Linked DNA regions of Homo sapiens: region 2 is linked to region 1. The links come from fine-mapping of genetic effects on gene expression. A gene starts in region 1. The other region holds a variant in brackets. All regions are shown on one strand. Distances are from middle to middle. Region 1 holds the start of MON1B (MON1 vesicular trafficking associated B). Region 2 holds the start of LOC124903726 (a long non-coding RNA gene).

Region 1 (16,121 bases):
GGCTGTAACTCCACAAACAAGGGCAGAACTAGGGTAATGGCCAGTTGGGGAGTGAGGGTAGTGTGCACACACACAAAACCCTAGGGAGGTCTCTCCTGCTTTAGGCTGCTTGTCTTGTGCAGGTTGTCAAAGTCTGGGACAGACGTGCATGTGCTATGTGGTGGTACACAATAGTTCGAGTCTGTTTTCGTTTACAAATCCTCATCAAAGAGTTCATGAGAGAGGGTTACTTATCTCTGTTTCACAGATGAGTAAAACGAGGCTTAGAGGCTAAGTGCATCTCCTATGTAAAAATGCTGGATTTCAGCCACTGTGTGCAGTCAGGTGCTGTGTCCTGGGTTCCACAGGTGGACACTGAAGGCCACCTTCTCATTAATGTTAGCAGCAGCCAGCATTGAGGGCGGGTCATTTCTGGCAGGGTAAAGATGAAAAAAGTACAAGAAGGGCAAAGGAATATCCTTGTGGGTCTTACTTTTAGGCCTTTTATGTAGTTTTTTTCTTTAAAATACCCTCAGGCCAGTCCCAAGCATAGCCTGGCCCTGAAGTGCCAATTCCAGCACCCCCGTGGGCCACCCTAGACACCTTGGCCAGATCTGGACACTCAGGGCTGAGATTCAACTAGGAGGCAGACCACGGAAGCAAGTTTGGAGGGGACAGTCCCTGACAGAGGCTAGAGCATCATCCAAGTGGAGGAGATGAGACAGAGGGAAGGGAGAGGGAGGCCTAAGGATTTCCCCAGAGGGGGAGGTGCATGACTGGGCAGGGAAAGCAGCCTGCTCGCCTGGCGGCTGCCACCATCTCTCTCATCGGTGGGCCCTCAGACCTTGCCCCATTGCTTAGGGAGACAATGACTGGCCACAGACACACCCCCACACACATTTCCAGGGTAGACAGAAGGTAAAAAACAAAGGTGGTTGCTCCCAGCACTGCCTGGTCTGGGAGCTCCAACTATCAGAGTCCAGTGAACAAGCCATTATGGGCAGCTTGGTCCGTAGAGGTGGCTGGTGGTGTGGAGTACTTGGGTGGGTAACGAATGAAGAGCCGGTCCTCCTCTTTCTTCACCCAGCGCAGGAGTTTGGTCACTACCAAGATTGCACCTGCCTTGGTCACCAGAGGGCTGAGGCAGGTATAGAGCTCGAATTTGGAGGTCACCTGGGGGTTTCGGAGGAGACAGAGTCAGATGGGCCAGAGCTGGCTATGGACAATCCTGCCTACCCCAGTGCAGCTGCATGTCTGCCTCCTGCAACCTGGAACATGTACCTGGCAGCACCTCCTACCAGGTGCTGCCTAGATACTGGGCTAAGGTAGGTAAGCTGATATTGTGCAATTTCAGCTGGACCTAGTGACTTCAACTGGATGATGCTGGTTGTGTGTGTGGGTACTCTCTAGACCTGTTTGCTCATTGGGAACTGGGGAAAACAGTAACAATGTTTAATATTCTGTCAGTAACCTATTGTGTACAAGGTCCTGCTCTAAGCTCCTACAACTATGTTTTCATCATCTACAGCCAGGGAATAATATAAAGAGGAACTCAATTTATGCCTCATACCACATGGAGAGGCCTGACCCCACAAGGTCACTAGCGCCTTTCCTGTGCCACCTCCCAGAGCGCTCCCCTTCACTCCCTCTGCTCCGGCCACTCTACCCTTTCCTTGCTATTCCTCAAACATAGCCAGGCTTGGTTCCACCTCATAGCATATCAGTCCTTTCCCTCTGCCAGGTGTACTCTTCCTCCTAATATCCACGTAGCTCAATACCTCCCTACTCCACTCAGATGCCATCTGCTCAGGGAGGCCACCCTGATCACTTGGTTTAAAATTCTGCTCCTAACATATATTTTGTTTGTTTTTGTTTTTTTGTTTTTGACGTAGAGTCTTACTCTGTTACCCAGGCTGGAGTGCAGTGGCACGGTCTCGGCTCACTGCAACCTCCGCCTGCCAGGTTCAAGCGATTCTCCTGCCTCAGCCTCCCGAGTAGCTGGGATACAAGCGCATGCCACCACATCCAGCTAATTTTTTGTATTTTTAGTAGAGATGGGGTTCCACCCTGTTGGCCAGGCTGGTCTCGAACTCCTGACCTTGTGACTCGCCGCCCACTCCCCCCAACTCCCACCCCGACTCAGCCTCCCAAAGTGCTGGGATTATAGGCGTGAGGCACCGTGTCTGGCCCATATCTTGGTTTTAAAATTCCAATCTCTACTAAAAGGTATAAGGGCTCCATGGAAAAATGGCTGAGTTGAGGACTGGAATAGAGAAAGTCAAGTAAGATGTGCTCACATAGTGAAGGGGACGTGTCAGAGACACAGGGATCAGCCTGGCTAAATCAGGGTACCCACCGGCTAAATCAGAGGCAATCTGAACACCAAAATAAATGCTAGAGAAGGATTTTAGCTCACTGAATTAAAGAAAAATCCATGAGACAATATTGATAGAAAATTAAAAATTCAATAAATAGGAGAAGGAAAAGTTATTCCTTTTTGTTTTTGAAATGGAGTCTTACTCTGTCGCCCAGGCTGGAGTGCAGTGGCGCGATCTTGGCTCACGGCAACCTCCACCTCCCAGGTTCAAGCGATTCTCCTGCCTCAGCCTTATGAATAGCTGGGACTACAGGTGCGCACCACCACGCCCAGCTAATTTTTGTATTTTTAGTAGAGACGGGGTTTTGCCATGTTTGCCAGGCTGGTCTCGAACTCCTGACCTCAAGTGATCAGCCTGCCTCAGCCTCCCAAAGTGCTGGGATTACAGGCGTGAGCCATCACGTCCGGCCCCATGTTACTCTTTATAGTAAAATCCCAGCCAATAAATGTAGAAAGAATGATGGAGTTAGGAAAACCACCATCTGACCAGGCGTGGTTTTCACCACGCCCTTTATAACTCTTTATAAATATAAATATAAAAACTCTTTATATTGTTTTTGCAGCTTCTAAGTCTAAAGTTATTTGAAAATGAAAGTTAAAAAAATTTAAAAACAAAATTCTTAGCCTAGGACAATACCTGATCCACAGCAGTCACGCAATAAATTAATAAATATGCATTACATGGCAGGTGCCATTTCTGATGAGGCCTCCTTCACTGGCCTCCCTTAGTAGCTGACCTTTAGCAAACCCATAGGAAGTGAGGGCTGGAGCCCAGAGGAGACCAAAGGGAAGGATACCCCAGGTGGAGGGCACAGCAAGGGACCACGCCTGTAGTCTGAGGAGTGCTGGGGACTCATGGAGTCACAATGAGCTGGTGATGAATGGGGTGCCTCCAAACACATGGATTGGGCTACTGGGGAATCGGCAGGCACAGCAGTGGTAGTTAATGGGGCCTCTGGAAAGTCAAAGACACTGTCCTGGTTGCTAATCTGGGAGAAGCACACAGGAGGGTGAGGCTAATGTCGGATTAGAGACACGGTCATTAGTTGTCAGGGGCTTCAAAGATGTGTGTGTAAAGGCAGGGACAGTGTTGCAGGCAAGGCACAGCCCAGCCAGAGGCCTGCTGTGTTTGGTGGAGGCACTGTGGCTGGAGGGGATACAATATAGGGAAAGGAGGCTTGAAGTGGGGAATTAATTCACTCAGAGCCCTGCCCAACTTACCCAGGCCAGTAGTGTCTCCTTCTCAGCCACGTGGTAAATGAGGCGCAGGGGTCGGGAGGTGCTGTGGAGACGAGCATGCAGGCGGTGGTACAGGTCCGACAGCCGCTGCCGCTCCTCCTCTCTGCTGTAGGGGGCCTCTAGCTCAGGGCTGCCATGATGGAGGGAGGTGGAGGACAAGGTTAGTCCAGGGCCTTCTTGGCTGGCCCATTTCCTCCCTCAGTCTAGAGATTTCAATGAAGTTAGGGAGCTGAGCCTCTCCCATGAGACTTGAGGATTCTCAGGGGTTGGAGGCTGACCTTCCCTCATCAAACTAGGAGATTCCCTGAGTACTAGGGCCCTGCTGTCCACCAGAAGAGGGGGATTCCTTTAGGTCTGTGGCTGATGCTCCATCATCAGACAGAGACTTGTTCTCTTCCCTCTTTCTTAAGCATGGCTGGTTATCTCTCCTGAGTCACATCCCTGAGATGCTGAACTTCCTGGTTTGACAGGCCTTCCCACCCAGCCAGTTGCCTTAGGGTCAGGGCCTACCTGGTAAACTGGGGCAGTTGGCGGTGGTGGTCAGGGATGTCCAGCGGCTTATACAGGAAGTGCCGGAGGCCCGGCGCCCCGACAGCCTGCACGCTGTAGGCAGGAGCACTGGCTGATGAGGCATTAGAGAAGCTGGCAGCCTCCCCAAGGGCACGCATGGCACCAAGGGCATGCATCCCATCTTCAACCAGGCGCCGGCAGGCGGCCATGGCATGGAAGGCTTCACGTTGGGTGCCAAGCAGCAGCAGGCAGACAGGCATAGCATCCAGGCGGGCCACGTAGGCGTAGAAAAAACCATCAGGGTTGAAGCGGGGCAGGCACACAGGTGCCCAAGCCTCACCCGCCGCAAAGGCTGGTGCACCCACCCAGTCGAGCAGCAACTGCAGGTCAGCTGGGTCCAGCCGGCACTCGGCCAGCACATTTCGCTCCTGGGCTGCTGTTATAAGTCGACCGCCTACTGCCAGCACTGACAGCGCCAGGCCAGGCGCTGTGCAACGTCGGAGGAGCGCACCTAGTGCGTCTCGCAGCGGGCGGGCAAGGGGCACACAGCGCACGGCACCCAGGAGCAGGGCTCCTGGGTCCTGCTCCATACTGTCCAGAAGTCGGTCCAGTGTGCGCTCTGAACCAGCCAGCAGGCGGCGGAGGTCATAGTTCTGCTTGTGTGCGAAGATGCGGGCGACACTTGCACGTGTAAGTGTGCTCACGATCTGTGCGTGCACAGCTAGCAGCTCCCCCCGCAGCTGGGCTGCTGACTGAGAAGTCCGTGACATGGCCACGAGCAACAGTGGGCCCTGTTGTAGGAACACCAGCTTGTGGTCCTCTAGGGAAGGAAGGGGTAAGAAGGGGGGGTACAGCTGGATCAGGAATGACCAGAGGGAGACAGTGGGGCTCTTCTGCCCTCTCCTACCATACACACACCAGGCCCGAGTCCACATGCTCACTCTGTGGGCACCTGGACTGGGGTAAGGACAAGCTGGAGGAATCTGGACATTTGCAGAGACATGATGGGATGGACAAAGGAACAAGTAGGTTAGATACACAGCAAAGACCACGGGCAGGCGGGTAGAGATGGTACAAGGGCTGACACAGAGCCAGAAAGACACAGCTCAACCACACAGCCCCCACAGTTATCCTCTCAGGTGACACAGAAGTATCCAGCTAGTCACTGAGATCCCAGCAAGTCAATCACTAAGAAACCAGCAGGCCAGACAGAGATGAACCCCCCCACCTCCCGCCACTGACAGAGCTCTGGCTGACCATCCACACACATGGACCCAACCCTGGCTGGCTGGATAGTGCCTGAGGCAGACAGACCTACCCGTGCCAGCCATATTCCCAGTCACTGTCCCCCATTCTGCCTCCCACCTGTTTGCTCACCAGCGTAGATGGCACGGATGGCATCTCCCGCACTCTGCACAAAGGACACCAGGGCGGTCATTACACCCATGGTAGCCGACAGCGCCTCCACACTACCATACCGCGAGTAGATGGGCTTGCCAGCCTCACTCAGCACAAACACATGCTTCCGCTGGCTGCGCCACTCCTCATCACTGGGGTCCCCGCCCTGGCCTCCAGAGCTACTCTCAGGGCTACATGTGGGACTATTCTCAGGGGCTGCAGGACTCCAGAGCCGAGAGGTGCTTGACAGGGCCTCTGACTGGGGCGGTGGTGATGGGCTGGGTGGCTGGTCCTTGTCCTTGGATCCTGAAAGGGAGCCCCTGGTGGGTCATCTGCATGTGAACTCCTAACTAATCCCACATCCCCAAGGACCCACCAAATATCTACTAGCCCCTCCATGACCCCTGCATGCTGACGCAGAACTCCAAGTGTCTCCTATGCCCCTCAATGACCCGATGACTGCCCTAGGACCCCGCAATGATCTCCACTAACATTTAGGTTCCAATGAACTTCCTAAAACCCTAATAAACCAACATATTCTCATTGTTATTCCACTGGACTTGCTATGTTCCTACAGACCAATTACTTCCCTTTCAATCACTGTTATTCCAAAGTCTTCAAAGCACCCCATTGACTCTGGATGACGATTATTCATCTTCAATGATCCCCCATTAACTCCTCTGACCGCTATTTTTTCTCCTGATATCTGCTCACCCAATGGCCACCATTAACATCTATTAATATCTTAACTGTTTGAATGCCCCAACCCCCGCTACTACCCTATCAGTGATGCCCACTGATACCTGATGACCCCTACTAACTCTCCTGGTTGCCCATTTATATTCTTGGTAATGTCCACTATTTCTCCCAATGACTGTCGTTAATATCCACTAACACCCAGATATTTAGGACTCCCCTAATCCACTATTCACTCCCACTGTGGTTCACAAACACCCCAATGACCCCACATTAACAATCATTAACACCTGGTTTTTCAATGACCCTCCATGACTGCCCTGATCCACAAGTTATTCTACTCCATGTCTACTCCCCCCTACCCCCAACAATGACCATCATTAACCTCCACTAACACCCAGCACTTCAGAGACCTTCAGTCACTCCCCTGACCACCTTCAATCTCATTGGTATCCACTCCCCTCCCTACAGTAACCATCATAATATCCACTAACACACAAGACTTTAATGACTTCCATTGCCCCTACCCATGACCATCATTAACATTCACTAAAACCCACAACTTCAACAGCCCCTACTGACACATCCATTTATTCCCATTGATTTCCATTCATCCCCCAATGACAACCATTATTATCCATGTGCAACTATGTCTCAATAATTTTCCCATAAAATCCCAATAATTGCATATTCTGTCACTGACATTCACTGACACTCCCATGTCCCCAAATATCTTTACTCCCTCCTAATAACTGCTCTTACCTGCTATTAATTCCCAAGTCCTCAACCTCCCCATCCACATTTATTCTCAGTGAGGTCCACTGATCCTTCCCAATGACTCCATTTACATCCACTAATTCCAAAGTGATCAATGGCACAGACTTCTCAGTGACTTCCATTAAATCTCAAATGAACAACTTTACACATCCACTAACATTTGGTCCCTTAAAGACTTCCCCAACAGTCTACAAGTGACTTCAATGATGTAAATACTCTGAGTGCCCATCGAACTCCACTGATTCCCCTTCCCACTTCTATTATTTAATAAATAACACCCTACTCCTCAAAAACACTAACTTCTCAACAGTCCTCCTCTGTTGAGTCTATTGACTTTCTTCAGCGCATTCTTTGATCTAAACACTCTAAATCCTCAGTGACCCTCTTTGGTCCTAACAGCCCCCTTTTTGATTCCTCAATGACCTAAACTCACACCAAACCCCCAGTGAACATCCGTTGACAGCCAATGACTTCCTCAATGATGTAAACTACACCATGTGTCCACAGTGACCTCCTCCTGACCCGGCGATGGTTTAAGCCACTTCTCTTAAGTCCCAAGACTCCCTACTGGTCACCCACTGACCCTTCCCCCGTCCAACAATGACAACCCCTAAGGATTCCTTTTAAGACCCCACTAAGTGGAGTCATACCTGTTTCCTCCAGGCCCTCGTCTTCGGGATCCGGCGGGACCGCGTGAACCCCTCCACCTTCTCTAGCTTCCTCACTGGGGAACTGCGTGTCCTCCAAGTCCTCCGCGCCCCCGGGGGCCGGGGCAGCAGTGTCTCCTCCGACCTCCATCTGCACATCCCTGAGTGGGAGGGGAATCGAGGGTGACGGGCGGTGAAAGAAACTTCTGAAAAGCCTTTATAGAGTCAGGCCCCCTTGGACACACTCCTACTGCTCATTTCCCCACGGATTTCAATAGGACGAGACATCCAAAATCATGCCCAAATACGTCCCCCCTCCAACACTTTCCGAAAAGAGGAGACTCTACTGGGCCTCAGGAAATAGAGATATACAAACACCTGTTTTAACTCCGAATCTCAATTGGCCGGATACCATTACTTCCCCGTAGCGGCGGTGGCATCACACTTCCGGGTGCGGCCCGGGAGGTGCCACACTTCCGGGTACGACCCCTCCCAGAAGACACTTCCGGTTGCGGAGCTTTATTGGCTCCTCGCGGCGTCCCTCTCCCGCCGCCTACGGGTGTCCCCTCATAGTTGAGATGGCGCGGGCCACTTCGGATCTACGTCAGGTCTGTTCGGGAGCGCAATGAGACCTCTCTGCACTCCTTTCAACGGATCTGGCTACGGCTGCTAACCCGGGAGAGCGAGGCCCACTTCGCTTACCAGTGGTTGGCGTGAGGGGGGACGCGGCTCGCTCTAGCCAATCCCGGAGTACATAGGGCGCGACCGTCTTCTTTCTGGGCCAATCGAGATGAGCCGCCTCATTTCCCCGCTGTCTACTCCCCCCGCCAAATCCTAACCAATACTGTGCGTTGTGTTGCGTTTGCACACGCCCATCCATTGATTGACGTCTCCCTCGACCCAATCGAAGACTCGAGCCTATTCCTTGTTTCACAAGAGGACTTTTGCAGCGTCAGTCCCGATGGATACCTGTGCCGGACCCACAAACGGGCTCTCCCAGAACTGAGGCAACTCCACTTTCTCTTATCCCTTAACCCTGCCAAGAAAGTCAAGGGAGGGGAGAGGCGCGAATGCTTGACGGGCAGTCGCCGCTTCTAATCAGCGTGCCGCGCCAGCAGCTCCGTACCCTGCCGGGTTCCCACGTCTACCTGCAGCTGGGGGAAGAACTCTGCCAGCCCAGGGCAGGGGCGGGCACTCACTTGGACCAGGACCTGCCCGACGCCCCCGGTCCGCCGGGCGAACGGGTCGTCACTTTCTGTGATCAGTTTGGGAAAAGGCTTGGGGGCCCTGCCACGGGCCAGTGTGGGAACCCAGGGTTCGAATTCCCGCCCCGACGCTGCTTCCGGACCGAAAGCCCCCTGAACGCCTTGCCCCAAGTGCCCTGGGCCTTGGTTTCTCCATCAGTGAAACAATGATGGGAATCGCTTGACGTGAAGTGAGTGGAGGTGCTGGCACACTTCGAGTGATTGCTAAGGGGAAGCCTTTGGTACTAGTTAGGATAATTATTTTAATTACAGTATAGTTAGGGTAATGAATTCCAAATACCAGTGTAGCATCATGTGCTTTATATACAATAGGTAATCGATAAGTAATAAATATTAAATTTATATAACAGAAACAATGGATAAATTTATGTGCATACAAAATATATTTACCTAATACATTTAGAAGTATATAATATATAATAAACATGTAAAAAAGTACAATAAAATAACATCTCATAAGCAAACTTATTTATTAATCTCGCTGTGTTACCCAGGCTGGAGTGCAATGGCAAAATGTTATTGACTCATTGCAGCCTCCGTCTCCCGGGTTCAAGCAATTCTCCTGCCTCAGCCTCTGGAGTAGCTGGGATTACAGGTGCCCGCCACCACGTCCGGCTAATTTTTGTATTTTTAGTAGACATGGGGTTTCGCCATGTTGGCCAGGCTGGTCTTGAACTCCCGACCTCAGGTGATTCACCCGCCTCAGCTTCCCAAATTGCTGGGATTACAGGAGTGAGCCATCATGCCCAGCCCAGGGCTACACACTTTAAACAACCAGATCTCGCAATAACTCCCTCAGTCACTGTCACCAAGAGGATGATGCTAAACCATTCATGAAGGATTCACCCCCAAGATCCGATCAACTCCCACCAGACCCCACCTTCAATAATGGGGATTACCATTCGACATCAGATTTCGGTGGGAACATAGATCCAAACCTTATCAGGGGAGTAGAGGAATAGTTACGCCTTCATCTAGCTTTGTCAATCTGCATTTTTACCTCAGAGGAAGCAATCAGATATGCATTTGTTTCAGGTGAGCAGAGGGATGACTTGGGGTTCGCTCCTTTGTCTCGCACCTGTGAAGATAAACTATCAATTTACGTTGTCAGGGTAAAATTCAACAGAACCGTTTTAGGGTAAAGATCTTGCAGCCCACAAGGAATCCCTAGAGGGCAAATTATGAGGGAAGTATGTAGCTTTATCTTTGTAAATATCTTATTTAGGGATAAACTGGGAGGCAGGTTTGCCTGATGCAGTTCCCAGCTTGACTTTTACCTTTGGCTTAGTAATTTTGGAGTCCTGAGATTTATTTTCCTTTTACACCTGCCTTGTATTTCAACAAAACCATATCACAATTAGGCTCCTTTTAAAAATTCTTGCTGATGTGCTCTGTGAACTTTAAAGATTGTTTTCCAGGGAAAATGGCAGAACTAAGAACAATTGTCACACAGTCTCTTATCTGAAACCCTTAGTGCCAGATGTGTTTTAAATTCACACATTTTCCTGATTTTAGAAATGAAATTAGGTGCATGTGCCATGTATTATATAGAGCCCAGCAAGGGACTGGGAAACACCTGATAACTAAACTCATTTTTTCTGAGTGAAACTTTTTATTACTCCCAGTAAGAGAAACACTAAACCGTCTTATGTTAGTTTAGTTCAGGTTTTACCTCCAAGTGAGCTTTTAAAAATTATTTTTCTGGAGCTTTTTGGATTTCAAAACTGCAGACGTAAGTTTATGGAGCTTTATTAGCATTCCGTGTTTGATGATTTGCCACTCTAAACAATTTCTACAATCAAAGATGAGAGATGGGAACAAGTGAAGGAACATAGAGCCATCTCTGGTGTGTCTGCCTTTTTTTTTTTTTAATCAGAAAAGCAAAGACCAAAAATATCTCAACAAACCTCTCCAGTAGATTTTAAGTTATGGCTCATGGCTTGAACTGCAGAGTGTTTACAAATTGTAGACACACACACAGACACAGAGTTTTTTTCTGTTTGTTTTTTTAACAGATCAAAGATGTCTTTGTGACATTATATATGTTTATACTTCCTGACTTTATGGACACTGTGTAAGTCCCAGGTAATCCCAAGCTACAGATGAGTCTAAGAAAGGACGTAAAGGAAAACACAAAATACTGCCTAGGACTTAAGGACAGGAACTCAGTTAGACCCTCATGTTAAGCCTGAGCTTGATCTCTTACGTACCATTTCTGTTTGATAATAAAGCGTCCAATGTCAGGCTGGGTACAGTGGCTCATGCCTGTAATTCCAGCACTTTGGGAGGCCGAGGCGGGCAGATCACAAGATCAGGAGTTCGAGACCAGCCTGGCCAACATGGTGAAACTAAAAATACAAAAATTAGCAGGGCGTGATGGCAGGTGCCTGTAATTCCAGCTACTTGGGAGTCTGAGGCAGGAAAATCGCTTGAAACCAGAAGGCAGAGGTTGCAGAGAGCCAAGATTGCACCACTGCACTCCGGCCTGGGCAAAAGAGTGAAACTCCATCTCAAAAATAATAATAATAATATTAATAAAATAAATAAATAAAGCACCCAACCTTATAGCTAGGTGAGTATCCAACACCCAGCCCATGATCGAAATCTCAGGCTGTGCAATCACCTGACATCCCATAGTTAGGTGCTCATTCTTTACCAAGGCCTGGTCCCAAACCTGTTCAAAAGAAGAATCATTAACTACAGAAGAGAGGATAGATTTATTTCAAAATCTTACACATCTGTGTAGTGTTTTTTTTTTGTCCTATTGTTGCTTGCCAGATGCTCTGTAGAGCATCCTTATTTGCCATGGACAGTTTGACAATCTATGGGTCTGCTGGATCATAAGCCCCAAGTGGTGGATTAGCTTAACCTGCAGTCTGAACTCACTTTCTTTTGTTCTTCTCACTTGAAATCTACAGGTAATTCTGTAAATGAGTCAAAGTCACACACTGAAATGTGGTATGTGTTGCTTCCAAAATCTAAAAGACTTTTACTATTGTGGATAAATAGTAAAGTATATTTTCTCATTTAAGAATATAATTGACTTATCTAAATGCAAAACCGATGTATTGTGGGGTTTATAATATTTGTAGAAATAAAATGTGTGGCAGCAATAACACAAATGACTGAAGTTATACATGATAGCACATTACTTTAAGGCTCTCACATTTTACATGAAGAATTATTATTTGAAGATATATTGTGAGGAATGAAAGAAGCATTTTGTTGACATGGGGAAAAAAATACAGAAATGCCAAAGAAATTTAATGCCAAAGAAATAATAGGCCAAGAGTTGAGATAAAGTGGAATACTAAGTGTATGCCATCCAAAAGAAAGATGAAAAAGAGGAACAAAACAATAAAGAACAGATTGGACAAATAGAGAACAAACAGCAAGATGCAAGACACTAATTCAACTATGTTAAAAATTGCATTAAATACAAATAAATAGTAGAATTAAAACAGAGATTGTCCAACTGTATATAACATCAGGGCCTAAATATAGGCTCACTACAAGATCTCAATGTAATTATGTGGTCTGTAAAAATATAAATGGGCCAGGCGTGGTGGCTCATGCCTCTAATCCCAGCACTTTGGGAAGTTGAGGTGGGTGGATCACTTGAGGTCAGGAGTTCGAGACCAGCCTGGCCAACATGGTGAAACCCTGTCTCTACTAAAAATATAAAATTAGCTGGGTGTGATGGCATGTGCCTGTAATCCCAGCTACCTGGGAGTCTGAGGCAGGAGAATCAGTTGAACTTGGGAGGTGGAGGCTGCAGTGAGCCAAGATCATGCCATTGTACTCCAGCCTGGGCAAAAAGAGCGAAACTCCATCTCAAAAATAAATAAATAAATAAATAAATAAATAAATAAATAAACACCAACAAAAAAAGGGACTCCTGTAAATATACAAAAAAAAAGCAGATCATTTAAAAGTAAAATGTCAAAACATTTTAAACTATGAGATAATGCAGGTATTATAACATCTGAGGGTCTATGTTACTATCAGAAAAAAATACTTCAAAATAAGAAATATTAAAACAGGACATATCATGATGATACAAAGTTCAAGAATATGTTTTCATCCAGAAGACACAACAATCCTAAATATACATATATGAATGCAAAACTTCAAAATACACAAATGTCAAATTGACAGAAAATAAAGGAGAAATAGACAAATCCCTAATTATAGTTGGAGATTTCAGCACTCCATGCTCAGTAATTGACAGAACACTAAGGTAGAAAACAAGAAAGGGTATAGCTAATGTGAACAACTATCAGCCAAATCAACTTAATTGACATTTGTAAAAATACTCCTCCCAATTATAGTAGAGTATACATCCTTTTAAAGTGTACATGGGACACTCACAAGGTACAGCATATGCTGGAAGATAAAACAAGCTTTAATACGTTTTTAATAAGTAAAATTATAAAGAAGGTGTTCTTCGATTACAATAGAATTAAAATAGAAATTATTAACAAAAATATCTGTGAAATCTCTATTGAAAATTAAGACAACACACTTCATATTGACACGTGGATCAAATAATAAATCTCGATGGAATATTAGAAAATATTTTGAACTGAATGAAAATAAAGACACAACAAATAATTTGGAAGATACAAAGCAGTGCTTATAAGAAAGTGTATAACTACATGCTTATGTACATAGGAAGAAATGCCTATAATCAATAGTCTACATGTGAACTTTAAGAAGCTGGAAAATAAGAAGGAAATTAAACCTGAAGTAACTAAGAAGTAAGGGAATAATAAAGATAAGAGTGAAATTTGGTGAGACAGAAAACATACAACCAAAAGAGAAAATCAATGCAACAATATATATATTTTTCGAAAAGATCCATAAAATTACTGAAACTTTTGCTTAAATGATAAAACAGGAGACAAATTACCAATAGTAGGGCTGAAAGAAGGTAACATGATTAGAGATGGCATAGACATACATGGGTAGTAAGAAACTACTATGAGCACTTTAATGGCAAAAACTTTGAGAATATAGAGGAAAAATTACTGAAAGACGCCAATACAAATATTTATTCACAAGGAATGGAACAAACCTGAGGGCTCTATATCACTAAGTAAATTAGATTTATAATTAAAAGTTTTCCCATAAAAATTCCAGGCCTAGATGACATCAATGGTGGATTCAAATATTTAAGTAACAAGTATTACAAATGTTGTATAATTTTGTTCAGAAAAGCAAAAAAAGGGAAAAACTTTTCAACTTTATAATTTGATAATTACCATAATAATAAAACTATAGCAAACATTATAAAAATGAAAAAGCAGGTCAAATTTCTTCAAGAATATGGATTCAAAAATCTGTAGACTATTGAATTCAATATATTGACATATCAAAAGTGAAGAAGAATATCACAAAATTTGATTACTATTCATTAAAGACATTCTTATCAACTAGGAATAAAGGAAAATGTACTTAAGATGATGAGAACATGGAAGAAAAACCTGCAGTTAACTTTAGCCTTTATGGGGAAAGACCGACTACTTTCTCCCTAAGATTAGGGGAAAGTCAAGGATGTCTGTTATTGTCACTTTTGCTCAAGATTACATTGCATATTTAAAGCTAGTATAAATAGAAAAAAAAGAGAAATAAATAAAAACCCCTAAATATTAGTAATGAAAATATCTCTTTTATTCTGAAACAATATGGCATTGTATATAGACATTTTAAGTTATATACATGTGACTGTAACAAGGTTAAAGAATACCAAAATCAATTACATATGGATATACACACAGCAATAATACAGGTAGATACATACACACACACACACAGAAAATTAATGAAGGAAAGGAATATGGAATCTTAAAAGATAAATACCATATGCAATAGCATAAAAACTTAAAATACTTAGGAATAATTATAATGATATATATGCTTATATAATTATAATAATACATATGCCTTAATTATCCACTGTAAAATCATTTTTTTTTTCTGGAGGAACTTAGAAGATTTAGTAAATTGAGATATTCACTATGTCCAACAATTGGAAACTTCTCATTATCAAAATATAAATTCTCCCTAAAATTATCTACTGAATTTTACATAATCCTAATATAAAACCTAGAATGGTTTGTAAAGACAAATTACAAAATTATTTTGATATGAAAATGCCAGTATTTTAGAATAGCCAAGACGTTTCTGAGGAACAAAGATAGACTTAAACTACATTATTTTAATATTTACTGTAAAGCTAAAGTAACAAAGATCACGTATTGATGTAAATATAAATATATAGATCAATTTATCAAATCACACAGTCCTGATTTCTCCACACCTGTATGGTTCAACAAAGATACCAATCTAATTAATTGAAGAGATGCTAATCTTACCAACAAATAGAATTGGAACAGTGGACATTCACATGGAGAAAATGAACTGCAACCCTTATATAACACCATACAAAAATTTAATTTACAGTATATTATACAGCTTAACATAAAAGCTAAAATGGTATTTCTTGTGGAAAACATAGAAGAAAAATTCTACAATCTTGGTGTATATATAATGATTTATTCGTTTTGTCACAAAATCATGAATCATCAACCAAAACAATGAGAAACTGAACTTGAAAAATATGAAAATCTGCTCAAGACAGTGTTAGCAAATGAAAATGCAAGCAATAGACTGAAAAAATACCTGTGCGCATCAAATAACTTGTACCCATAATACAAAAATTTTAAAAGGACATATTAAACTCAATAATATGAAAGCAAACAATTCAATAAAAAAGATTTAAACAGAAACTTGATCAAATAAGACACAAAAGGCCAATAAGTCCATGAAAAAATGCTTACCATAATAATCAGTCCTAAAAAGGCACATTGTATCTAGAGTAAGAATTGACCACATACTAGCTAGAATTGCTAATATTTAAGAAAAACTTACAATACAAATTGCTCGAGGAAATTTGCAGAAACAAACTCTTCCCCATTGCTGGCAGGAATGCAAGATGGTGCAACTTTGAAAAATGCTTTGGTAGATTCTTATGAGGTATAAATACACACTCTTACTGCATGACTCACCCATTTTATTCTCAGGTATTTACCATGAAACATATGCCCACAAAATTATTTCTGCACACATGCTAACAGCAACTTTCTTTATAGTAAATAAAAACTGGAGAAAAGCTCCAAATATCCAACAAGAAGATAATGGACAATGAATTGTGGTATATTCATAATACTA
Region 2 (16,121 bases), 28 kb before region 1:
TCAACTCAAACTGAGTTTATTATAGTTTTATAAAATGCCCTGAGCAGGGACAAGTTGGCACAACCATGATCTCCTTGTTCTGCATACTAGAGTTCTATCAATGGTTTAAGGTGCAAAACCAGTTTTAAAGAGTTATCAAACATTCTTGCACAATGTAATCTAAACCCTCAAGATCTGTTTCACAGGAACCTCCGCTAAATTGTTTATACCCTAACCCTGGTAGTTCGGCATCATATATATTATTCACACTAATCCCATAAGAATGTTGACTCTGACCTCTGTTTTCAGAGTTTCCGTATACCAGTCCTCTCTCCCTATGAACTATTTAAGGCTGGGATTTCTGTTGCACACGTTGAAGTATGGAAAACAGTGACATTGATGCATGCCTTCATTGGTCACAACTTTGTAGTGTGTTTTAAGCGTTTATTTCGGTAAACTCATTGTTAAATTTATTTTTAAAACATTTGTATTATCATATATGAAAACCTAGTACTACTTGTCTGCAAAAGAAGGTAAACAAATGTATTAAAGTCTAGAAAAATATATTTGCTTGTCAAAGGCTTTATTTTAAAGGGGACATTAGAAGTTTAGAGATGTGTTTCAGGCACTTTAAACTAAAATAAGATGTTTTTAAAAAATGTATTTAAACAATCTTTGGAAATTTTTGAACGGAGAAAAACATTCTACCATGTGATTCAATGCTATTGAGCACCAGTGCCACATAGATCACAAGTGATTGTTGTCCCACACTTTGGGAAAATATCTAAGCCACTGATAAAAAGTATTACATTGACAGACTATTTAGTATTCTTAGCTGGGATCCAGGGTGAACACATAGATATGCCTATCATTCCCATCAAAGCACAGACTTCATAATCCCCTTAATGTGGAAGGGAGAGAAAGTGACATCTTATTTTATCTTCACAACAACATTATTAAAACTGGGATTATCTGACTTTCTAATTTACAAGTGATGTAATTGAAGATTAGAGAGCAAAATAATTTGTCCTGGGTCACACTTTTAATTGTGAGGAAGATTCCAGGTTTGAACCCAAAATTCCTGACTCCAAAGGGTATTTTTATTTTTATTCCATCACAAAAAGTGGAAGAATTCAGGAACTCTTCCTTGTGATAGTTCAAGAATTCTCAAACCTGGGCATTAGAATCACCTGGCAGGCTTGTTAAACCCAAATTGCTGGGCTCTGCCCCAGTTTCCAATTCAATAGATCTGGGGTGGGACCCAATAATTTGCATCTCTAATAAGTTCCCAGGTGATGCTGATGCTGTTATTCCAGGGATCACATTTCCAGAAGCACTATCTTAGTCAATAGGTATCCTTTTATGTCTGGATAAATGGTTTGCAACTCCAACTGCACATAACCAACTGAAAATTTTTAAAATAAATATACTCGGGCATTATCCCAAACTGAGTGAATTATACCTTCTGAAAGGGATTCCGGGCACTTTGTAGCACCGCTATTGATTGTAGCATGTAGTGCAGTTTGAGAATCAGTGGGTGACAGCAGATACACAGGGGTTCCAAAGCTTGCAGTTACTAACACAAGTGTATTAGTCCATTTTCACACTGCTATAAATACCTGAGACTGAATAATTTATAATGAAGAGGTTTAATTGACTCACCTTTCTGCATGGCTGGGAGTGCCTCAGGAAACTTACAATCATGGTGGGAGACGAAGGGGGAAGCAAGGCACTTCTTACATGGCAGCAGCAGGAGAGAGAAAGAGAGAAGGGGAAACTGCACCTTGTAAACCATCAGATCTCGTGAGAACTCCCTCACTGTCACACTAACAGCAAGGGGGAAACTGCCCCCATGATCCAACGACCTCCCTCCACCAAGTTCCTATCCTGACACATGGGGATTATAATTTGAGATGAGATTTGGGTGGGGACACAAAGCCAAACCATACCAACAAGTGTGTTTCTGATGCTTATTACTTTTGTTCTCTAGCCTTTCTTCAGATGAATAACTGTACTGTTGAGATTTTCCTCTAATTTGCTCTTCAGGACTCTCTGGAGAGTGGCGATAAAGCTTGGCCCTGCTAGGGCTCCAGGGGAGATGTTCACAGGTGTTTACAGTGTGTCTTTCACATGATGCTTCTTTATCCTGATTGACAGCCTAATGCCTGAGTCTGATCCATAGCCAGCTGTCTCTCTCAAAGGAAATCCAGCAGACACGCTTTGTGGCTCTTGTCTGATCTGTGTCCAGTTTATTTCTGCCAAGATAGCCACTCTCTAGGAGAGCGTGTTGTAAGTGATAACACTCCTGGAGCCCCTGGACCTTGCATTTTGGTTTCCTATTCTCCTTATGTCCTAGTTAAGGTTCAGGTGTGCCAGTCAGGAGAGACAGAAGGAAAATGGGAAAACGAAATGCATGACATGAGAGATGACCAGCAGGAGCACGCCTTTATCAAGGTCTAGGGGCTCCAGGAGTGTTCTCACTTAGGCTTTCCACAGGGGGTTGTGAATTTGCTAGTTTAAGGAAAATACGTGTGAGAAAGGGAACTTACCTACACGACTCTGGTGTTGGCCACTGGGTTTTATCACAGTCAGCAGCTGTGGGATATGTTGGGTTTGGGTTCAGTGGGATGAGGAACAAGTGGGCTATATTGCAAACAGCCACATGGGGAGAGGAAGTTTTAACTAGACCAAAGGTGACAGGGTACAACTGGACTTCAAACAACTTATGTCAGGCCTAACAACGGATGCCAAGGCAGCAACTGCATTAAACAAGTTTATGACATAGACATAACCCAGAAATGGTCATCTCTATGCATACGCTTAGCTTGCATGGGAATAGAGATAGAATAATTGCTACTTCATGATCCACATCAGAGAAGGAATTGTTCTTTTGATAGAACCTATTCAAATGTATGTTGACTTTCTGCTTGGCATCTTGGAGCAATAGGAAGGTGTATATTTCTATTGCTGGAAAGCCCTCTCGATCTCACATTCAATCACCAGGTGCATGCAGGCCTAAGCCCCCTTTGGGGTGTGTAGGTAATCTCTATTTCCATGCCAGCACTGGCCTAGTTACAGTACTAGGAATTCGTTCTGAACAACTGCAACATTTCTGACTTCCACCTCCTTCTAGACTCCCAGGGCTGTCAACAAGTCGTGTCTTTCATCCTCATCAGGTCCTTTTACATTCCCACAGCAAGAAAGGAAAAGCAGCCCATGATGTATTTTTTTAACAAGCCACTGGGGATACCCTGGAGCCAGTATTAAAAAAGCACGCCTGGCTGAGCACGATGACTCACGCCTGTAATCCCAGCACTTTGGCAGGCCAAGGTGGGCGGATCACTTGAGGTCAGGAGCTCGAGACCAGCCTGGCCAACATGGTGAGACCCCTGTCTCTACTAAAAATACAAAAATTAGCCGGGCATGGTGGCACACACCTGTAATCCCGGCTACTCAGGAGGCTGAGGCAGGGGAATCACTTGAACTCGGGAGGCGGAGGTTGCAGTGAGCTGAGATCACACAAGTGCACTCCGGCCTGGGTGACAGAGCGAGACTCCATCTCAATAAATAAATAAATAAATAAATAAATAAATAAATAAATAAAAGCATGCCTCAAACTTACTCCAGCCAAACGCCAAAGGAGCTGGAGAATTTATGCACAGTAAGAGTCCTATCAAGGGAGAAAAACTATGCAATAATTTGAACAGATAAAGTTTAAAATACATCATTATTAACTAAAATGGGATATTGGGGCAGTGAGGGGTTCACTAGGAAAAAGCAAAGAAAACTCTGAAGCATACAGAAAGAGCCGACCTACGCAGCAGCTACTGCCTGCAGGGCTGAGCTGGAGCGTCCAAGGGAGACCCTCTACCCACAGGGTGAGGTCAGGTCCTAGTTGGACAGGTCATGGCTGTGACTCACTGAAGGGCAAAGAAGTTGCTGTAGTGCTGCCTTTGTAGAACTTTCTGGAAATCTGCCCTCTAAACCTTGCCAGAAATCCATCTTCTGAGGTGTTGGGGAACGTTGTTCATGGAGAGGTGTCTCACTAGAGTCACTGCTACAAAACTACCAAAGATGGTGTCTTGGGACGCTGCTGGCTGCCATGCGCTACAGGAACCTGCGCTGGAGAAGTCGTCCACCCTGCAGAAACCTACCTAGCCGGAAGACCAGAACCAAAGCAGAAACGTCTCCCTGGCGCCCTCTACTGAGCAAAGCTTAACATCGTGTCAGCTGGCAAAGGAAACTGTTTCAAGGGCCTGATCCATTTTCACAAGGCAGGTGGTAAAGGTGAATTTGGAGCTGAGAGGCAATACATTGTTAACTGGCATATACACCCAATCCTATCGGTCAATAGATGAAGACTGTTCTGAGGCTTAGGGAGGCAGAAATTCATTCTGCAACACTTCTAGCCCACCAGACAAATAGGCCAGGCATACTTCAGCATCCATGTCATGGAAAAATGTCATGGAAAGGAATTTATGTCCTGGCAGATGGAAGCCGGCCTGGCGTGCAATGAGGTGTAAGACAAGTGAGTACAGGTAGGCGCTGACCCTATCTGCTAGAATCAGTATTCCATTTTCCACCTGCAATAAGATCATGATTGTGTTCATGCACAAGCAGGCCAACCCCAACCAGAATCCCATAGGAAGATGTGTTTCCTGGCACTTCTCCTGGTAGCAAGATTGTCAGTCAGGGTCTAATCAGATAAAAAGATAGAATTTATTTAAAGCAGAGGGAATATAATTGCAGGTGTGATTGTTAATTTTAATGTGTCAACTTGACTGGGATAGGAGACAGCCAGAGAGATAGAAAAATATTACTTCTGGTTGTGTCTGTGAGGCTGTTTCTGGAAGAGAGTAGCATTTGAATCAGTCCACTAAGGGAAGAAGACTCACCCACACCGGTGTTGCGGAGCATCACCTCATCTATTGAGGGCCCATCTAAATAAGACAAAAAGCCAGAAGAAAGGTAAATTGACTGTCTTTTTGAGCTGGGACATCCATCTTTTCTTGCCCTCAGACATCAGAGCTCCTGGTTCTCAGGCCTTCAGACTCCAGGGACTTAAGCCAGTGCCTCCTTCAGTCTCAGAGTGGGAGTTATACCACTGGCTCCTCTCTTTCTCAGGTCTTCCAACTTGGACTGAATTACACCCTGACTTTCCTGGTTCTCCAGCTTGCAAATGGTATATCGTGGGACCTCTCGGCCACCATAGTCACATGAGCCAATTCCCATAATAATTCTCCATATATGTGTGTGTCTGTGTGTATCTTTTTGGTTCTTTTCCTATGGAGAACCTGGACTAATACAGCAAGGAATTGCAGGTGCTGGAGGATCTGAGAACCAAACATGTGAGTAGCAGTTAAAAAGAGATTATCATTGGGAGGCCGAGGTGGGCAGACCACTTGAGGTCAGGAGTTTGAGACCAGCCTGGAGAACATGGTGAAACCCTGTCTCTACTAAAAAAGAAAATACAAAAATTAGCTGGGCCTGGTGGCAGACATCTGTAATCCCAGCTCCTTGGGAGGCTGAGGCAGGAGAATCACTAGAACCTGGGAGGCAGAGGTTGCAGTGAGCCAAGATCATGCCACTGCAATCTAGCCTGAGTGACTGGGAGACTCCATCTCAAAAAAAAAAAAAAAAAAAGAGAGAGAGAGAGAAATTATCAGGGAGTCAGAGTTAACAGTGCCCAGCGCCTGGGATCACTCGATGGAGGCTGCAAGCAGAATAGATTTGTCTAGGAGGAGGTAGAGCCACTGAGAAAAAGCCACCATTATTCTAACACTGCTTCCTTCTGGATGACTCCACTCACAACCCAGATGGCTGGAATCTTAGGCAATAGAGCTTACAGGGGAAGGGAAAGGAATGCCCGTGAAGGCAAACAATCTCCAAACTGGAAAATTAGGCAAGATTGTTGGCTGAAGACACTGGGTTATGTAGGTTGTTATTACATAAAAAGGAAGAGAAATGCCGCATGAAAGATTACATACATTGAAGAAAAAGGCATGGATGGGAAATGTCCATAACATTCACACTATGAAACAGGATAACTGAGAGTGGTATTGCTCTTAATTCCTTTAAAGACATGAGACTGACTTTATCTTCGGAGGTAGTGAGTTTGATTCAATTATTAACTTGCATCTGATTGTGATAATAGTGAATTTTTAAATTCAGGATGTCGCCTCTTTTTTTTTCCCCCTTTTTTGAAATAAAACTCTGGAATTCTTACTGCTTCCAGAACCTATTTTAATCTTCAGACCTTGGAAGGTATTCATATCTCATAAGAGTAACGTAATATATGGGGGCAAAGATGCAGCCAAGTAGCTCAGCACTGAAAGCTAAGATGAAGAAGAACCCCATGGCTTCCAGGACCTTCCCCTTGATGCTGTGGTCGGCAAGGAGGGAGGTGACTGCAGAACACCAGCATGCTGAACATCAAGAACTTGACTTATTGAAGGTGTCAGGCAAACCCATGGCCAGGAAAGCCAAGGTAAAGCTCCCCAGGGTCAAGGAGCCCAGGTATCCTAGGACATGGTAGAAGACAGTGCTGAAACCTCACTGCGTGTGAGAACTACAGATCCAAGCTTAGAGAGTGTGTCTGTGTCAATGAAGGGAGGAAAGTTTCTCAGCCCGAGCTGACAGATCAGGAGACAGATTCCACTTGGATTAGGGAGAATATAAAAAGGGCAAAATTAGGAGATCCTGATACCAATCACCATCTTATTCTCCCTGGCATTCTGGCCTTCAGAGCCAGAACTACAGTGATGGTTTTGGTCAGAATGATAGAAATAGCCATAGTAAACACAACTCCAAATGCTATTTGTTGGAGTCACCACGTAGCTGTGTGGGGGTGGCCAATGCATAGGGCAGAGCAGAGGAAGCACAGTGTGACGGAGGCCAGACTTTCAGCAGGGTGCAGCTGAAAGCCCATGTACTGGCTTTAACCGAGGGGATTTCCTGCTGCTTCACAAATACCCCAAGGACCACTGCAGTAAGGACAGAGAGGCAGGGCTGTGCAGGCCAGAGACATCCCCAAAGGGCCTTCAAAAGCCAAGAAGTTCACATCCTTTGGAAGACAGTAAATTCTCTGACTATTCTGATATTGATCATCTGGACACTTCTTATACTGAATAGTATCTGAAAAACAAAGCAATGGTTTTTTGTTCAAGATTCATAAATCCTTACTGATTCCCAGAAACAAAAAAGTCATTTTTGGCCTTGTAGGGCACCTTGTCCATCTCAGTGCTATACTCAAATGTCATGCTTTTTAGCATGTTACAGAAGCAATAATTTCAAACTAACATGCCAATTCTCTCCTTGGTTTTATTTCCCAAAATAACATTTTCTCTCATTGTTCATTTCTCCACATGCCAACGAATTATTTTCCATTTTCTTTCATAATGAAAGCATTATACTCCCTTAAAAATTTAAATATCCATTCTCTAGGCCAAGAGTCCACAAACTATAGCCTACAGGTCAAATCTAGCCATTAGTAATTTTATAGGGCTTATAATCTATGAATGTTTTAATACTTTTAGATGGTTGCATTTTAAATGGTTATACAAGTATTTACATACTTTCAATTTCACCTCTTGGCTTGCAAAGTCTAAAATATTTACTATTTGGCCCGCTAAGAAAAACATTTCCTGACCTCTGCCTTCTCCTGGATTATTTACACAAATGACAATTATTTTCTAAGAATTTACACTGAACCAGATGCCTTATTAAGAATGGGGACCTGTTCAACTTTTAACAGGTATCAAAGAGGCCCTCAGGTTCTAATAGCTAAATATTTCTTAGTGTATCCCTTCCACATTTCGAGGTAGAATTCCATCAGCTTGATGTGGCAGGAAAGGTCTTAATCATCTTGTTTGTACATAGGTTTCTGGCCTTATCTTTTGTCATAAACTAAACACTGGATCAAAAGATTCTGATGTAGAGATTTATGTATCATACTCACAGTGCTCATGCCTTCTCGCTTTGCCATGACCTTCTTCAACAGGGAGTTTCTTTTGCTCTCTTCTTTGCTTGACTAATTCCTACTTGCCTTTAACAACGTAGTCAACATTACCTGCATTAGGATGTGCCTGCATGCCTCCCCACACTCTAGTATGTACCTGTGTCTTTGAACCCTTTGTCCTGGGTTGCCTTCCTCATTAGGCTATGAATTATCAATGACAGTATAGTTTTATTAAACAAACCCTGAAAAATTAGATACCTAAATAGACAGTCAAGTAAAGAAACATACGAAGAAAAATATTCCTAAAAATACATTTATTGTCCGGGCGTGGTGGCTCACGCCTGTAATTCCAGCACTTTGGGAGGCTGAGGTGGGTGGATCACCTGAGGTCAGGAGTTCAAGACCAGCCTGGCCAACATGGTGAAACCCCATCTCTACTAAAAATACAAAAAATTAGCTGGGCATGGTGGCAGGTGCCTGTAATCCCAGCAATTCGGGAGGCTGAGGCAGGAGAATTGCTTGAACCCAGGAGGCAGAGGTTGCAGTGAGCCGAGATAGTGCCACTGCACTCCAACCTGGGCAACAGAGTGAGACTCAGTCTCAAAAAAAAAAAATTACTGTAGCAACATTATTATCAGGTAAAATAGAATTCAAAGAGATATACAGAGGAGAAGAACACATAAAATAAAAATTAGGCCAGGTGCGGTGACTAACGCCTGTAATCCCCGCACTTTG[G/A]GAGGCCAAGGCAGGCGGATCACCTGAGGTCGGGAGTTGGAGAACAGCCCGACTAACATGGAGAAACCCTATCTCTTCTAAAAATACAAAATTAGCTGGGCATGGTGATGCATGCCTGTAATCCCAGCTACCCAGGAGGCTGAGGCAGGAGAATTGCTTGAACCCGGGAGGCGGAGGTTGTGGTCAACTGAGATCACACCATTGCGCTCCAGCCTAGGCAACAAGAGTGAAACGCTATCTCAAAAAAAAAAAAAAAAAAAACTAAACAGATAAAACAGACTCTTTTCTCCTTTAGAAGGCTCAATATAATGATACTAATTTCCTGCATGTTAATGTATATATTTCATTCAATACAAATATCAAATAATAATAGGGGTTTTTTGTTGTTGTTGCTGCTGTTTAATTTTTTTTGAAACAGAGTCTCACACTGCCACAAGGCTAGAGTGCAGTGGCGTGATCTCTGCTCACTGCAACCTCCGCCTCCTGGGTTCAAGTGATTCTCCTGCCTCAGCCTCCCTAGTAGCTGGGACTACAGGCTTGTGCCACCACATCCAGCTAATTTTTTGTATTTTTAGTAGAGACAGGGTTTCACCATGTTAGTCAGGATGGTCTTGATTTCCTGACCTCATAGTCTGCCTGCCTCTGCCCACCAAAGTGCTGGGATTACAGCTGTGAGCCACTGCGCCCAGTCAGGTTTTTTGTTTTTTTGTTTTTTTTTTTTTTTTGGAAATAGACAATATGATTCTAGAGTATGCATAGGAAAGAAACTACCCTTGAAAAATTCTGAAACAGTAGGAAAATATAGAGGAGGTCTCACCAAGTGAGTTTCATAATATTATTTAAGGGTATAATAATAAAAAGTTTGGTATTTGTGTATAAATAGGTAACTAGATAAAGGAATAGAATAAACAGTTCAGAAATTGACCAAAATAGACATGATTATTTGGTATATGGCGAGGATGGCATTGCAGTTGGGGGGATACATGTGCTATTCAGTAAATTCTCTCCAGATTATGTACAGACACAAAATAAATTCCAAATAGTTCAAATATAAACTAAATTATAAAAGCATTAGGGCCCGGGAGCAGTGGCTCACACCTATAATCCCAGCACTTTTGGAGGCTGAGGTGGGTGGATCACCTGAGGTCAGGAGTTTGAGACCAGCCTGGCCAACATGGTGAAACCCCGTCTCTATTAAAAATACAAAAATTAGCTGGATGGGATGGTGGGTGCCTGTAATCCCAGCTCCTCGGGACGCTGCTACAGAATTGCTTGAACCCAGGAGGCAGGGCTTGCGGTGCGCCGAGACTGCACCACTGTACTCCAGCCTAGGCAACAGAGCGAGACTCCATCTTACTAAATAAATAAATAAATAAATAAATGTATTAGAAACGGTGACTTAACATATGGTGGGCAGGAGGGTGGGCAAGTGGTCTCTTCAGGGCAGGGTCCTCGCTAGTGCTGTGGGCACCAGAAGGGGAAGAACAGCCATGTGCTCTCCTCTGGGTAGTAGGATACTGAAATTGGGATATTTTGGGGTGTATGTTTTTTGAAGCTTTGACTGTGATTTTTAAACAATAAAATGTTCTAAAAATATAAAGGTAACCACTGAGAAAGATATTTAATCTCAGAGTGGAAGAGAAATTTATAGGTAATGGGCATTTTAGATAATGTAGGTTTAATAAGACTTTAGAAATAAGAAGACACACGGAAAGTAAAACAGGCTTTCCAAAAATGAGGCACAAAATATAAAGACAATGACTCCAGAAAAGAAGGTCATTAAATGCCTACTGGCTTTCATAAGATACAATTGGAAGGAATCTTTATAACTCTTAAATAGGTCTGATCACAGAAGTAAAACATGACTGCACACACTTGGAAGAAATCAATTAATTTTAGCAGGGCATGGTGACTCACGCCTATAATCCCAGCACTTTGGGAGGCCAAGGTGGGTGGATCATTTGAAGTCAGGAGTTTGAGACCAGCCTGGCCAATATGGTGAAACCCTGTGTCTACTAAAACTACAAAAATTAGCCGGGCGTGTTGGTGGGCACCTGTAGTCCCAGCTACTTGGGTGGCTGAGACAGGAGAATCGCTTGAACCCGGGAGGTGGAGGTTGCAGGGAGCCGAGATTGTGCCACTGCACTCTAGCCTGGGCGACAGAGTGAGAGTCCATCTCAAAAAATAAATAAATAAAAATAAAAAAAGAGATAAATTAATTTCAGAGTTAACACCAAGGAAGGACTACAAGACAAAAAACAGGCACCTAGGCTATTCAAATCATCTCCATCTAATAATGACTTGATAATGAAAGGAAGAAGAATGGAACTAATGTAATCTTTGGGTAAATGTTACTCAAGATTCCAATGAGAAAGATGCTGGGTAGGATTACGGTGAGTAATAGGTCACAAAAACAGAGTTTGAGTTTTGTAGGAAAATGGAAAATGAAGTCTAGGTACTTGTGAATTTTGTAGGTATGGCAAATATGTTAATTCTGCCACTGACCAGTCCCTTAAAACAGCTGGTAGATCAGCAAATAGAATATGCACGGACCTCTCACTGTTCTACTCACTGGTTAGCATCACTGCTTAACAAGATCCTAGAATGGAGAAAAGTAAGAGCTCAATATCCAGGTTCCCAGGAAAAGGTGGCCTGGGATTGTATTCACCTGTACTTGATGTTTTGATTGCTGTCTGAAATCTAAATGAACACAAAATTGAGAGATCAAAAAAGAAATGGTGGATGCCTTTGATTCTCTGAAACGTAACATGCTACATGTCCTCAAAACTTTATGAACGGCCAGTCAGGGTGGCTCACGCCTGTAATCCCAGCACTTTGGGAGGCCAAGGCGGGTGGATCACTTGAGGTCAGGAGTTTGAGACCAGCCTGGCCAACATGGTGAAACCCCGTCACTACTAAAAATACGAAAATTAGCTGGGTGTGGAGGTGGGCGCCTGTAATCCCAGTGACTCGGGAGGGTGAGGCAGGAGAATCCCTTGAACTCAGGAGGTGGAGGTTGCAGTGAGCCGTGATCTCGCCATTGCACTCCAGCCTAGGCAACAAGAATGAAACTCCATCTCAAAAAAAAAAAAAAAAAGGGAATTTAAGTAACCTAACTGTGTAACCTGAAGTTACACAGCTAGTATGCAGCAGAGCTGGGATTCTAACAAACACAGTCTGGCCCTGGGTTCTGTTCTGCTAACTAGTGTGCTCTATTAGGTAGTAATATTATTATCCTCCGGGAGATTCTACTGCAGTCACTTTGGCCACTCTCTCTTCCATGCCTTGTCTAGCTTGCTACTCAGGATGTGCTATGTTTGCATCTCTTCGGGCCCCTCCTCTGACTCCTCTGTTTTTCAGTGGGTTTCTTTCTGGCTTACTTTTTTCAAGAATGTCCTGGCCGGGTGCGGTTGCTCACGCCTGTAATCCCAGCATTCTGGGAGGCCGAGGCGGGCGGATCACGAGGGCAGGAGATCGAGACCATCCTGGATAACACGGTAAAACCCCGTCTCTACTAAAAATACAGAAAAACATTAGCCGGGTGTGGTAGCGGGCACCTGTAGTCCCAGCTACTCTGGAGGCTGAGGCAGGACAATGGCGTGAACCTGGGAGCCGGAGCTTGCAGTGAGCCGAGATGGCGCCACTGCACTCCAGCCTGGGCGACAGAGCGAGACTCCGTCTCAAAAATAAATAAATAAATAAATAAAAATAATAATAATAATAAAAAGAATGTCCTTCCGCCTTTTGGCAACACTGAGCTCCCCCAGGCTCATTCACATTTGAACCTGAACTACAAGCCAAGAAGCTTGAGAATTATGGTAATTGAATGCAAGCCCTGAGAAAAGCTGTTACAGGAAGTGAGTGAAGACTTCCCAGGCAGCTGTCAATTATTTCAATGAAAGGAGAAGTAGCCCTGCCAGGAAGGTCAGTTGAGTCAGGAGAACACAGGGCAAATCAAAAGCCAAAGTCTCGCTCTGTCGCCCAGGCTGGAGTGTAGTGGCGCCATCTTGGCTCACTGCAACCTCCGCCTTCCGGGTTCAAGCAATTCTCTGCCACAGCCTCCTGAGTAGCTAGGATTCCAGACACCTGCCACCACCAAACCAAGGGGTGTCACCATCTTGGCAAGGCTGGTCTTGAACTCCTGACCTCGTGATCCACCCGCCTCAGCCTCCCAGAGTGCTGGGATTACAGGCGTGAGCCACAGCACCCAGCTGGTCACTGCGTTTTAGAGACATTAAGCAATTTGCCTGAGGTCATCCAGCTGGTGAACAGGGAAACCAGGACTCGAATCCTAGGTGCCCAGTGGTAAATCGGCAGAATATCCAGGCTGACCCCATTTGTGTGACACAGAGAGGATGACAAAGAGGATACTGAAGTTCCTTAGAGATTCCTGGAGACTGGCCTTAGCAAGTAGGTGGTGTCAGTGGGGCAGGGGACCACAGCCTGGGCCTGGAGTCAGCTCTGCCCGGATGCGAGTGGTGACTCGGGGACTAAAGCTCCCTGGGCCTCATCTGTGGACTTGGGATAATAATGGCAACAAACGTGAGACCCAACGTTTATTGAGGGCTTACTGTACAGATTCACTATCTCAATTTTCCTCATCGCTAAATTGGGAATAACAGCAAGAATAGCAGTGAGAATAATAAATGATAGATACCATTTATTGAGCATTTATGTTATAAAAATCTCTGTTCTGAGAGATATACACACCTTAGTGTTCCTCATCTGTAGCCTGGGAATAATAATAATAAATCATATGAACCACTTACTGATCACTTAATGGACAGAAGCCTCTGATCTAAGTGAGTCACACATCTCAGTTCCCATTCTCTAGGGACTGGGAATAGTGAATCATCCCAACAATATGTGAGAGCTGGCATTCACTGAATACTGACTGTGTGCCAGGTCCTCTTCTACACACATTAGATAGTGTCCAACTTGACTGGTCCTTGGCAACTCTCCAGTGTCGTCTCCCATCCCACTCTACCTCATTCCACTCTACCACGCCGGCCTTCTCCAGACGTCTCCTCAAACACAGCGAAGTGCAGCCTCACCTCCCGCCTTGGCATGAGGCATGTCTTCTGCCAGGCCCACCTTTCCCCAGACACCCACAGGGCTCACCCCCTCGCTTCTCTACCTCGCTTCTCCGCTCAGATACCACTTCCTAGGTGAGGCCGTCGCTGACCGCGCTGTTTAAAATCCAGTGCTTAGAACAGTGCCTGGTACCCAGCAGGCAATCGGCAAATGCCTGCTTAGTCAGTACATGCTCAGTCAATGGCCGCAGCCTGCTGCTGGGTGCCTTTGGATTTGGGTCCCAAATGCCGGCCTCCAGAGTGGCGGACACATTTAACAGATCTGAGGTTGCCTGGGGGATGTGACCCCAGAGAAGGACCAGTAGGGCGAAGGCCCCGAGGGGACACGTGTTTTGGAATGTTTGAGACGGGTGGAGAGGCAGCCTTGGCTAGAACCCAATTTGTGAGGGGAGCTCAGATGGGCGGGCATGTCCCAGAGCCAGCGCGAGTCTGCGGGTCTTGCAGAGACTCTGGGTTTCCTGAGACCACCGGAGACGCACAGGCCCCGAGGACCGGAATGGGTTAACACCTGCCCTCCGGCCCCTGTTGACAACATAGATGGTTTGGGAACTCGAGATGAGGCCGTGGGGCGGGGGATACTGACACCCACTTACTCTCTCTGAGTTCAGGAGCATTTACCCAGCCTCTGTACGGCGCCCGGGGCTCGACTGGTGGGAGGGGTCCGGCAGAGGCCCCGCCTCGAGATCCCAGCACGCCCCGCCCCGCTCCACGGTGTAGCACAGACTCCGCGGAGAACGCGAGCATGGTCGGAAATCATCGCCTTTATTTCTTGGCGGGTCTCGAGGGAAGGTCGGGAACGGGCGGGTCCTGCTGGCCTAGAGGGCGTCAGGGGCAGCCACCGGCGGCTCGGGATCCTCCTCGTCGCGAGCGCGGGGGAGCTCAGGTCCGGCCTGCCGGGGGCTGGGTGAGGCTGCGGACCAGGTTCCTACGCTCCTCGCGTCCGCCCGCGTCTGCCCTAGGCCTCCACCGCGGCTTCCTCTGTCCCCGGGGCCGCCCTGCTCCCCACAGACCCCACTCTCGGGGGCCGCTCCCAGGACCCCCGCCCGCTCTCTCCTGACTCGGTCCCTGCCCGCCCCGCCTCCCTTCCTCGGGCTCCCTACCTCTCCCTCGCCGGCCCCGACCTCGGGGGCGCTCCGGACCTGCTCCCCGAATATCTCCAGCTCCGCCTTCAGCCTGCGGAGAAGGGGCCGAGGAGACAGGAGGAAGAGAGCGAGAGTCCAGGGGACGAGGAGGAAGCCACCGAGACGCGGAGACCCGACGACGCCGAGGGAGGCACAGGCCGGGGAAGCGGCAGTCGGGGGCGGAGCGGGGGACCTGGGCGGGTTCCCCTCCGCCCTGCCCCTGCCCTCCTCGCCCACTCCTCCCTTCCCCTCTCACCCGTCATTCACCGCCATGGCGCCCTCGACCTCAGGCGGCGAGTGCAGCCGCCGCTCCACCTCCCGCAGCTTGGCGCGCACCAGCCTCCCTGTCGGTGGGCGGGCGTCAGGGGCAGGGCCGAGGCCCGGGCACATCCCCCTCCCCCCGCCCACCTGGCGCGGGAGGCTCACTCTCCGAGAGCAGCTGCTCCTTGCTTCTCTCCAGGGCACGGATCTCCCGGGCCAGTCGCTGCTCCAGCATCTGCGAGGACAAAGAGGAGGCCTCCCCGTTTGGCCGTCCTCTTGGCTACACGGCCCGCCCCTCCCCTTTTGTGCTTCTCGCGAAGTCTTCACCTACATTAGGTCATTCATTCATTCAACTATTTATTAACTCAATGTGCAGTTCCTGCTGTGGCTGGAGACCCACCCACCTCCCCCTAAACGCTCTCCATGTCTCCAGGCACCTCTCAAACTTGAACTCTTCCCACTCTCCTCATCCTCCATTCCCCAATCTGCGGCTCCTCAACGGTTTCAGGCACCGTCCAGCCCCAGGGCCTTCCTTCTGCACCGATACCTGCACGGCTTCTTCCCTCACTTCCTTCACCTCTGCGTTGAGATGTCACTTGCTTAGAGGCCTTCCCACTGAAGTTCCACGATCTAGCCACTAACTTTCTTGGTGCCTCCACCGTCCCCAACCAGCTTGGGACAGCAAAGACGTGGACTCTTTGATCTGCTACCCTCCCTCCCTGCCTCAAATGCTGACCGGTGCAACCACTGACATTAGCTAAATGAAGGAATGACCTGACCATGGCTTTCCCTGGGCTGCCATTTGCCACTGCAAGGTGAACATACACTAGATGAGCAGGGGGAAAGCAGGATCACAATGGTACTGCACCCGTCTGGGCAGGTGATGCTGGGTGTGGCAGTGGGGCATGGTGAGGCGTAAGTTGATTTTAGATAAAAGCTGAGGGACTGAATAGGTGGGCAAGCGGAAGCAAGGAA

What was found. PIP is the estimated chance that this variant, and not a neighbour inherited with it, causes the effect.
Region 2: its variant is fine-mapped to the expression of MON1B in thyroid (GTEx, PIP above 0.99).

What each region holds. Positions count from the first base shown.
Region 1 is chr16:77,183,139-77,199,259 of GRCh38, reverse strand. It overlaps MON1B (MON1 vesicular trafficking associated B), which reads right to left and starts at 8,070. Exons shown (of 6, transcript NM_014940.4): 1 at 8,002-8,070; 2 at 7,627-7,784; 3 at 5,483-5,809; 4 at 4,106-4,925; 5 at 3,578-3,725; 6 at 1-1,152. The coding sequence starts at 7,774. The coding sequence ends at 952. It overlaps LOC124903725, which reads left to right and starts at 8,694. Exons shown (of 1, transcript XM_047435021.1): 1 at 8,694-9,352. The coding sequence starts at 8,694. The coding sequence ends at 9,038. RefSeq lists enhancers at 2,031-2,200, 7,919-7,968, 7,989-8,278, 7,404-8,352.
Region 2 is chr16:77,211,390-77,227,510 of GRCh38, reverse strand. SYCE1L (synaptonemal complex central element protein 1 like) reads right to left here. Exons shown (of 11, transcript NM_001129979.3): 8 at 15,312-15,381; 9 at 15,142-15,229; 10 at 14,865-14,937; 11 at 14,296-14,654. The coding sequence ends at 14,580. LOC124903726 (a long non-coding RNA gene) reads left to right here and starts at 15,380. Exons shown (of 2, transcript XR_007065121.1): 1 at 15,380-15,482; 2 at 15,580-15,924. It also overlaps the pseudogene VN2R10P. RefSeq lists enhancers at 1,012-1,181, 6,926-7,035, 14,300-15,273 and silencers at 14,351-14,400, 14,431-14,520, 14,631-14,960, 15,021-15,380. The variant G/A (reference allele first, on the strand shown) is at 8,672.